2 separate regions of the Homo sapiens genome follow, and region 1 is linked to region 2. A link means that fine-mapping ties the variant in region 2 to the expression of a gene that starts in the linked region. Tissue or cell type: whole blood. Region 2 holds a variant in brackets; the other region holds the start of a gene. All regions are shown on one strand. Distances are from middle to middle.

Region 1 (5,125 bases), 59 kb before region 2:
CGCAGAGAGGGGGAGGGGGACCTAGGCCTGGGGGAAGTCCAGAGCCTACCCCTTCCCCAAAGCGGGGCTATGGGCCCAGGGAGTTCGCGTTTCCACCAACGCCTTGTCCAGTGACCTTGAACAAGTCCTGACCCTTCTCTCTCCGCCTCAGTTTCCCCAAGGAGACACTGGTTGGCGGGTGGGGGAGATGCTTAGGTCCGGGGAATCTCTGAGATTCTCGGCTTCCCCTCTCCCCTCACCCTCCTCCTCAGGCCCCAGGCAGCCCCGGGGCATGCTGGGAACCCAGGCCTGGGCTCCGGGCCAGGTTGGTGTGGGGGGGTGGGGGCGGGGGCAGCCTCCTCCCTTCCCCTTCCTCCCCACCTTGGCCTGACTCTCGCCCCCGCCTGAGGGTCTGGGAGGTTGGGAAGGAGGGAAGGGGGAAGAGAGCTGGCCGTAGACCCGTCTCCGGCCCCCGCCTCCCCCTTTCCTCCTCCGCCCCTTTCCCGCCTCTCCTCCCCCTCCTCAGGTCGCTACCCCAGCCCTGGGCCCCTTCTCAAACCACCCCCACCCCACCCCCAGCTCCAGACCTGGCTCGAGCTGCGAGGGGGAGGGAGAGAGGGAAGGAGAAAAGAGAGAGAGAGAAGGGAGGGAGACCCAAAGAGAGAAGGGGGAGGGGAGGAAAGAGAGAGACCTAAGAGGGAGGGAAGGAGAGAGAGAGGGAGAGAGACAGAGACTGAGAGAGAGCAGGAGACGGAGGTGAGGGATGGAGAGAGGGAAGGGGCGGAGGGAGAGGAAGTGAGGAAAGACATCCGAAAAAAGGGGGTGGAGAAGGGTGAGAAAGAGGAGAGAGACTGAGAGAGGGCCAGAGAGAGAATGAGAGAGACAAAGAGGGGGAAGGGGGAGAAGGGGAGGATGAAAGACAGAAGGTAGAGGAAAAGCAGGAGAAAGAGGGGGAGAGAAGGAAGAAAACAGAAGCGGGGAGAGGAGAGAGGCGATGGGCAGAGAGAGAAGCCAGCGCAGAGCCAGGGAGGGATGTCCTGATGCAGGAGGAGGCTGGGAACCAGGGAAGGTGGAAAGAAAGAGGGAGAGAGAAAAAGGCAGGGCCAGAGAGACCTGGACTGCGAGAAAGGAACCGGAAGGTGCGCCTGGAGCAGGGGCAGCGAGAACCAGACAGTCCAGGAGGAGGGGCTGGGCACGGGAGAGACCCCAGCTGGAGGGGCTCAGAGCCCAGGGGTGGGGAGGGTGGGTGCTGGGTCCCGGGGTCCAGAAGCTGGAGAAGGCTGGGGACACCTCCTGGATTCAAGAGGGAGGACAGAGATGGGGCTGGGCAGACTTTGGGAGCCTCTTCCCCTCTCTGAGGCTCAGCCCCCTCACCTGCCAAATGGGGATGCTGAGGGCACCTCGCTCTCTGGAGTGGGAGGTGTCAGGGAGAGGACTGGTGCTCAGGGCCTGGTATGGGGTCAGCGCTGGGAGATTGTGGCTGTCATAGTTGTAAATGACCCAAAGAAGGGAGGAGAGAGGAAAGAAAGCACCTAGGGAGGCTCTGATGGTTGGCTAGCCCCTGGCCTCCTTAGCCCTGGGCCTGGAGTCTCTGCAGACTGACAGGAGGGTAGGTAGGAAGCAGGTGTGCCCAAAGGGCCAAATTACGAGACAAATGAGGTTCCCTCCCAGCCGGCACCCAGGAAGCCAGGTTTTCTATCAGGCCATGCCTTCCCCAGGAGGCCTGCCTGGCCGGAGGGAGGAGGGGCTGGGGGCAGGGACTCCTGGGTCTCTGGGGAGAAGGAGGCTTTGGATCTGGACTCATGAGTCTGAGGGAGGAAGGGGCTGAGTCCTTGGATTCCAGGAACATTTGGGGAGAAAAGGGCCAGAGGCCTGGATTCCTGGGTCTGTGGTGAGGAAGGGCCTAGACTTCTGGGTTCTTTAGGGAGGAGGGGGATGAGAGCCTTGACTCCAGGGTCCCTGATGAGGAAGGGGCTGAGGGCCTGGACTCCTGGGTTCCTTGGGGAGGAGGGGCCGGGGGCCCGGACTCCTGGGTCCTGGCACCCACCCGTAGAACCGACCTTGCGGGGCCTTCGCCGCACACAAGCTCGTGTCTGTGGGTCCGTGTCGGGGGCTCACCATCGCGGCTGGGGCCTCCCCGGCCCTCCCCCTCATCCCTGGTCCTCCTGGTCCCTGTCTGTCTGTCTGTCGGGTCTGTCCACCTGCCGCGCCCCCCGGGCTGAGGTAGGAGGTTGTATAGTTGAGGAGGACACCCAAGGAGATCACTATACGGCCTCCTAGCTTTCCCCAGGCTGCGCCCTGCACGGGACGGGGCCCGGCGGGGACCCCCAGCCCCACTCAGGGACCCTTAGCCCCACTGGGCTGCCCCAGGGACCCTGGGAGGAAGAGCCGGGCTCTTTTCTGTCCTTGTCCCTGCATCCCCTCCTTCCCCTGAAATCTGTTTTCCTTCCCTGTCTGTCTCCATCTCTGCTGTGTCTCTGTGGCTTCTGTGTCTCTTTCACAGTGGATCCTCTGACTCCCTCTTATTCTGGCTTTCTAGGTCTCTGCCCCTCCCGATATCTCTCTGTGTCTCTATTTCTGTCGTTTTTGGTCTTTCTGTCTCTGGCTCTCAGAATGTCTCTGTGCCTATCTCCATCTCTGACCCCCACCCCAGGGTCTACCGGGCCACCGCACACCATGTTGCCAGTCTCTAGGTCCCTGAGACCCTTTAACCTGTGAGGACATCCAGGGTCACAGGTGAGGTTCTTGGGAGCCTGGCGTCTGGCCCAACCACACACCTGGGGAATTGCTGGCCTGACTTCTGACCCCTGACTCCTCATACCCTTCCTCCAGAGCATGACATTTGACCACCAACTGAAACCTGACCTCTGACCCCAGACCACTGGCCCTTCCCCCGCCCTGTGGTGACTTCATAAAGGTTACTAGCTTCTCCCCTGGCCTTGAGACCCACACGATGGCCCTGCTGGCTCTGGCCAGTGCCGTCCCGTCTGCCCTGCTGGCCCTGGCTGTCTTCAGGGTGCCCGCCTGGGCCTGTCTCCTCTGCTTCACAACCTACTCTGAGCGCCTCCGCATCTGCCAGATGTTTGTTGGGATGCGGAGCCCCAAGCTTGAAGAGTGTGAGGAGGCCTTCACGGCCGCCTTCCAGGGCCTCTCTGACACCGAAATCAGTGAGGAGACCATCCACACTTCATCAGTGTCCTGGGGAAGGTGCAGAGGGAGGGCAGGAGAGGCCCAGAGGGTCAGGCTGAGGGACAGACAGAGAGAAACAGTCAGAGGAGAAAGGCTCAAAGACCATGAGAACAACAGAGACTTAGGGACAGAGAGACACAGACAGGGGAAGACAGCAGGGCAAAGACTCAGAGAGGGGAGGATGGAGAGTCAGAGAGGGGAAGATGGAGACTCAGAGAGGGGGAGGATGGAGACTCAGAGAGAGAGGAAGATGGAGACTCGGAAAGATGGAGACTCAGGAGTATGGAGAGTCAGAGAGGGGAGGATGGACACTCGGGAGGATGGAGAGTCAGGAGGATGGAGACTCATAGAAAGGGGAGGATGGAGAGTCAGGAGAGGTTGGAGACTGGAGAGGGAATAGAGACCCAGAGAGGGGAGGATGGAGACTCAGAGGGTGGAAGATGGAGACTCAAAGAGGATGGAAACCCAGAGAGAGGAGGACAGAGATGAGGCAGAGACTAGGGGAAGCAGGATAGCGACTGGTCGGGGGCAGAGACTCAGGGAGGATAGAGACTTGGGAGGGACTCAGGAAGCATAGCGACTGTGGGGCAAAGAGTCAGAGAGGGGAGGATACAGACTTGGGAGGGCAGAGACTCAGAAACAGAATGTTCGCATTAGGGACATGGTGTTGCGGGGAGCTGCCTCCCCCAGCCCCTGCTCCCTCCCTCACCGCCAGACTATGATGAGAGAAGCCACCTGCATGACACCTTCACCCAGATGACCCATGCCCTGCAGGAGCTGGCTGCTGCCCAGGGTGAGTGTGTGGGGATGGGGAGATGGGAGATGTGGACTTGGAGCCCCTAAGAAATGGGTATGTGGGAGGGCCCAGGGCAGAGGAAGGAGGCCCCCAGAGTTGGGCAGTGATCCGGGAGGGGAAAGCTGGGAAGACATTGAGCTCAGCTACTTGTCCAAACGAAGGCTGAAGGCAGCTCTAAGAGCCAGGGGCTGAAGGTGGTGAGGGGGAAGGGACGCTGCAGAAATTGCCTAGAGCTGGAAGTCCAGATGGGGTCGGGTAGGCATAGGTTCTGCCATGGCTGCATGGCTCACACTCTTACTGGCTATGAAGTTCTGGGTGTGTCACTGCCCCTCTCCTGGCCTCAACTTACCCATCTGTAAAGTGGGACAATCTTCTTGCCTCCTAGGATGGCCATGGAGCTCAGTGCAGGGGTTGGGGCTGCCTGATGAGCCTGATCTTAGGGAAGGCATCTTCCTCTAGGATAGAACACACACACACTCGCACACAGACACGCTCAGAGACATACACTCACACTCACACACACACACAGATTTCTTATAAAGTGATTCCACATTTTTGAGGTGTGAGGCAATTAGAGGGCGGGAAAACAGGAACAGCAGAGTGGATCACTCAGGTGACAGCAGTGAAAAGAGACAAGGTGTGACTGTCCTGGTGAGACAGGCACATGTGACAGCCTTGAGGTGTGTGGCTGTGCGAAGAGACCTCAGGGCTGGGGGCCACGCAATGCCGATGGGCAGCATGGGCGGTAATCATGCCTGATCACCATGGCCATGATCCCCACGAGGTGCCAGACCCTGGAACTGTGGAGGCTCGGAGTTGCAGGAGTTACAGAGCCCTGCGCTATAGAATAAACTGGCTTCCTCTTAGGTCCAGGAGCTCAGGGCTTATTCCCACACCCACAGTCGCTCCTTTTGCTTCCTGCTTTGCCCTCCAAGCGTCCTGTCAACAATCCCGGAAGAGGGAAGGTTCCCATCCACCCAGGGGGCATCCAGGGCCAGCCTGGAGAAGGCCTCAGCTGTGGCTCTCCCCATCTCCACCCTAAAGGGAGACCTGAGGCCCTAAACCTCTCCATGTGGGGGTGTGCAGGATTCCAAGAAATGCCCTTTCTCCCCACATAGGCTGCCTTGTTACAGAAGCTTTTGAAAAGATGAGGAACCTTTG
Region 2 (5,200 bases):
TATGGTACCCATTTTGCAGACGAGGAAAGTGCGACTTAGAGCATTTCAGTTAATTCCTTAAAGTCACCCAACAGCCCAGGCTGTCGAATTCCAGCAAAAGTCTCTTTCTGCCTCTGCCCTGCCACGCTACTGGCACAGAAGAGCTGTCTAATGCACTAGTCACTCACCACATGTGGTTTTCAAGCACTTGAATTGTGGCTAGTCCAACTGGAGACAGGCTGTAGGAGTAAAATACCCATCAGATTTCAAAGACTTAGTATGAAAAAAATATTGTGACCATCTCATTAATAGTTTTTATATTGACTACATGTTAAAATGATAATAATTTGGCTATTTAAGTTTAGGTTAGATATTTTATTAAAATTAAGTTCGCATGTTTCTCTTCACCTTTTTAAAGTGCCTACTTGACACTTTGAAATTACATATGTGTCTCACATTTCTAATGAACTTTGATACTCTACAATCTCAGAAACAACTCAGAGATGTCTCCCTCCCCTACCACCCATCCAACCACCAAAATACCCTGAGGACTCTTTGTCCTCAAGAATCTCTAAGGCAACCAGTTCAGAAGATTGTTGCAATGAATGATGAGGATTCTGCAATAATGAGCTGGAACATACCAGAGAGGAAAACCTGTGCAATTTTGTCCAATTATGGTTCAAGGGAAAAATCCTGTGATTTGCAATGAACACAGGCCTTGGTGGCTGCCATCGATGAAGGACTTTATGCTTGATAATCATTGTACCACATCCTCAACTTTCTTGCCTCTGATCTCAACAAACTCAGCATTGATTATACATCATCATCCCTGTGTGACGGAAGAGGAAACTAGGAGCTTGATGAGAAATGACAGCCAATGTCTGCAGATTCATGAGAGGGCAGGGCTGTATTCCGCTACTGGGTCCTATGCACCATGCAGAACCAGTGTCTTCACGTGGAGACTCATCACTGATCCGAAAGGTGACTGCTTCTGTATTACACTCATTTCCCCATGACCCATCATAAAGTCGTTAGGGCTCTTTTGCTTTCTCCTGAAAGCTTCAAACCAAACATCCTTTCCCATCCCGACTCAAGCCCTCAAGCTGATGCCCTTGCCTCTTGCTCCACCAGATTCTCCTCCTGCTGGCTCCTGCATCACTGTTCTCTGCCCTCATCTCTGTAACCAGAAAACAAGTGTTTCCATCCAAGAATTACCCTCTACTGGTCCCATAAAACTCATTCCCCCATTTACTCAAGAACTTCCCTCCTTCACTTATCCCTTCTCTCTCCTGCAGCCTCATAGTGTCTCTATATTCCATCATTCCCATCAGGACCCCAATAAAGTCTAGAGCCTATTTGTTTATTTATTTATTTACTTATTTATTTGAGATGGAGTCTCACTCTGTCACCTAGGCTGGAGTACAGTGGTGCAATCTGAGCTCACTGCAACCTCCACCTCCCAGATTCAAGCAATTCTCCTGCCTCAGCCTCCCAAGTAGCTTGAATTACAGACGCCCACCACCACGCCTGGCTAATTTTTGTATTTTTAATAGAAGTGAGGTTTCAACATGTTGGCCAGGCTGGTCTCGAACTCCTGACCTCAAGTTATCCACCTGCCTTGGCCTCCCAAAGTGCTGGGATTACAAGCATGAGTCACCGTGCCCGGCCTGTTTAGAACCTCTTTAAAAAAATTATTCTTCAACTCCACATCCTTCTTCAAACAAAGAGTCTATTGTGTTCACCAGTGTATTAAGTGTGTCTATGTCAAGCTACCCAGTCCCCCAGAATATGTTTCTTACCTGGACTGTTCACCAGCTGTGGTCTTGCTCTGGGTAGTTCTAGGTCTGGGTCTCCTGGGGAGAGTGACTCAGGCTCTAATGATTGCAGCAAAACATACACCAAGGAACAGGAGGAGGGGTAAAGGAACTAAAACCAGCTGGGTAGCAGGAAATAGGAAGTCTGAGCTTCTTCTGATTTTTGATGGCCCCAAGAATACACCAATATACTGTCTGCTTTAATGGCATTAGGACAGTGGGCTGGGCCTGTTTAGAAACTCATGTACCTGACTGTATTTCTCAGCCTCAGTCTCTGTGGGATGCAGAGGTTCAGTGCTCTCAACAACAAGGGCCAAGAAATCCAAGTGTCCGGGCCCCTGCTCCCTCCAAGGGTCAAGGTAAAGAAAGCAGCAAGCACTGTGGTGAGAAGAATCAGAGGGAGGCAATGAAAGGAAGAGAAGAAGTCATGAGGGATGGAGACCAGAAACACAGAGAGAGGTAAGGGAGTGGGGGAAGTTGAGACAGTTGGCAGGACAGCGCGTCCACACCCATGCACACCACCAAGATTAACCCCATAATCCTCTGATCTTGTGGAAGCTCATTTGTAGTCTTCTAGCCCAAAGAAATAACCGTTTTTCTGAAATGTTAAGCATCCTTCCAAGGGTATCAGAGTGATATGGAGAAATATGGTAAGACAGTTACAGAATCAGAGATAACGACACTGATTCTAAAAGCATTATTACCAAGGCATTGTTGCATTAAGACTGTTTTTTCTTTTCTTTTAGAGACAGTATCCTGCTACGTTGCCCAGGCATGTCTCAGACCCCTGGGTTTAGTGATCCTCCTGCCTCAGCCTCCCCAAATGCTGGGATTACAGGCATGAGCCGGGCTGTTTTTAATTCTAAGTAATTTATAATTTACAATTACACCTAACAATGGCTTCAACAAGGGGTGTCCAATCTTTTGCCTTCCCTGGGCCACACTGGAAGAAGAAGAATTGTCTTGGGCCACACATAAAATACACTAACACTAACGATACCTGATGAGCTAAAAAAAAAAAAAAAAAAAAAAATCCCCCAAAAATCTGATAATGTTTTAAGAAAGTTTATGAATTTGTGTTGGGCTGCATTCAAAGCCATCTTAGGCCATGGGCTGGACAAGCTTAGCTTAGAACCAAGACGAAATTTATGGTTTACTTTACAAGAATTTTGCAAGAGGGTAATACTAGGTTAGGTTATATCTGGAAAATATCATCAAGAACTACATTCATTTTAATCTTTTCTCTTTTTTATCCCTAATATGGTGACTTTTTTTCCTGGGGATTGCCACTTCATGGCTCCAAGAAAGCTACCACAGCTCCTGACTTCACATTACAGCAGGGGTCCCCAACCTCCAGGCCATAGACCAATACACAGACCGATACCGGTCTGTGGCCTGTTAGGAAGTGGGCTGCACAGCAGGTGACTGGCAGGTGAGCAAGAGAAGCTTCATCTGTATTTA[T/C]AGCCACTCCCCATTGCTGGCATTACTGCCTGAGCTCTGCCTCCTGTCAGATTAGTGGCGGCATTAGATTCTCATAACAGTGTGAACCCTACTGTGAACTGTGCATGCCAGGGATCTGGGTTGTGTGCTCCTTATGAGAATCTAATGCCTGATGATCTGTCACTGTCTCCCATCACTCCCAGATGGGACTGTCTAGTTGCGGGAAAGCAAGCTCAGGGCTCCCACGGATTCTACATCATTGTGAGTTGTATAATTATTTCATTGTGTATTACAATGTAATAATAATAATAGAAATAAAGTCTACAATAAATGCAATGTGCTTAAATCATCCTGAAACCATCTACCCCGCCACCCCATGGAGAAATTGTTTTTTATGAAACTGGTCCCTGGTGCCAAAAATGTTGGGGACTGCTACACTCCAGCATCCCACACCAGGAGGATGGGGATGAGATGGAGAATCACTGAAGATCTTTAATCAGAAGGGTGATATGTTCATTTGTACTTTATAAACATTTGTGTTTGTATTTTATAAACATTTTCTTGGGATCATAACAACAGATGCATTTTAGAAGATTCCCAAGGTATGAAGGGTAACAAATGAAGACGTGCCTAGGAGTCACATGGAAGCCAACACTTTGTAAGGGGATTAAAATAAAGGGAATGGCAGAGGACATCATTATGCACAGAGGAGAAGGGCCCAAATGTCAAGAGAAAACAAGAGACAAGGGACTCCACAGAGAGTAATTGCCAGAAAAATTTGTAGGTCTTTTGAAGTCTGACTGTTCTTCCTAAAACGGGGGTCCTGGGACACCCCTACCTGTTTCCCATGAGCCCTCTTTTCTAAAACATAAGTAGGTTTTCTTCCTGGCTACCAAATGGCCTGTGATTAGCACACTAGGTTGGGCAAAAATAGAGCCAAGTGTGTGTTCCAAAGTGACTATGGTGAAGAAAAAAGCGAAAGTCTTAAAATGGACTTCCACTTCTGTGTTTGCGTAAGGCTAAAAGGGAAGATGTCTTAGGGTTGACCGGAATGGGAGTATTCCTGCCTATGCTGCAAAAGTCCCTGACTCTTCTGGTAACTGAAACATGAGAAATGGCCTCGGCGAGCAGCACAGCCTCCCAGTAAAGCACTGGACTGAGGTGGTAAAGCCAGATTGCCTGGACTAGAATCCCAGGACTACTGTTCACTAGCTCCGGACAAGCCAGCTAATCCAGGGGTCTCAAACATTTCCCCCAACTTTTTTTTTTTGAGACAGAGTCTCACTGTGTCACCCAGGCTGGAGTACGGTGGTGTGATCTTGGCTCACTGCAGTTTTGCCTCCTAGGTTCAAGTGATTCCCCTGCCTCAGCCTCTCCAGTAGCTGGGATTACAGGTGCCCGCCACCACGCCTGGCTAATTTTTGTATTTTTTAAGTAGAGATATGGTTTTGCCACGTTGACCAGGCTGGTCTTGAACTCCTGACCTCAAACAATCACTTGCCTTGGCCTCCCAAAGTGCTGGGATTACAGGACGGAACCACTGCACTGGGCCACAAACATTTCCTATGAAGAGCCAGATGGTCAATATATTTCATTTGGCAGGCCATAGGGTCTCCATCACAACTCCTTGGCTCTGCTGTTGTAGCCTGAAAACAGCCACAAGCAAAGTTGTAAATGAGGAGCATGACTGTATGTCAATAAAACTTTATTTAAAACACGACAATTGGACTTCATATAAGTTTTGCATGGCACAAAATACCCTTCATTTGATTTTCTTTAGCCGGTAAGAAATATTAAAGCCATTCTTGGCTCTCAGGCCATACAAAAACAAGCGGTGGCTAGATTTGACCCCTGATTTAACTGCACTGGGTCCCAGACACTTCACCTGTGAATTGAGAGCAATGATACTTACAGAGGTGTTTTCTGGAGCAGAACAAATAAGATCAGTGATACAAAGCACTTGGCAT

The links. PIP is the estimated chance that this variant, and not a neighbour inherited with it, causes the effect.
Region 1: it holds the start of SPACA6, and the variant in region 2 is fine-mapped to the expression of SPACA6 in whole blood (INTERVAL, PIP above 0.99).

What each region holds. Positions count from the first base shown.
Region 1 is chr19:51,690,595-51,695,719 of GRCh38, forward strand. SPACA6 (sperm acrosome associated 6) reads left to right here and starts at 2,736. Exons shown (of 9, transcript NM_001316972.2): 1 at 2,736-3,146; 2 at 3,884-3,961. The coding sequence starts at 2,933. It overlaps SPACA6-AS1 (SPACA6 antisense RNA 1), which reads right to left and starts at 2,862. Exons shown (of 2, transcript NR_108100.1): 1 at 2,040-2,862. It overlaps MIR99B (microRNA 99b), which reads left to right and starts at 2,018; the gene lies at 2,018-2,087. MIRLET7E (microRNA let-7e) reads left to right here and starts at 2,192; the gene lies at 2,192-2,270. It also overlaps MIR125A. RefSeq lists enhancers at 1-201, 202-1,011.
Region 2 is chr19:51,750,036-51,755,235 of GRCh38, forward strand. It overlaps FPR1 (formyl peptide receptor 1), which reads right to left and starts at 1,843. Exons shown (of 2, transcript NM_002029.4): 1 at 1,779-1,843. The variant T/C (reference allele first, on the strand shown) is at 3,255.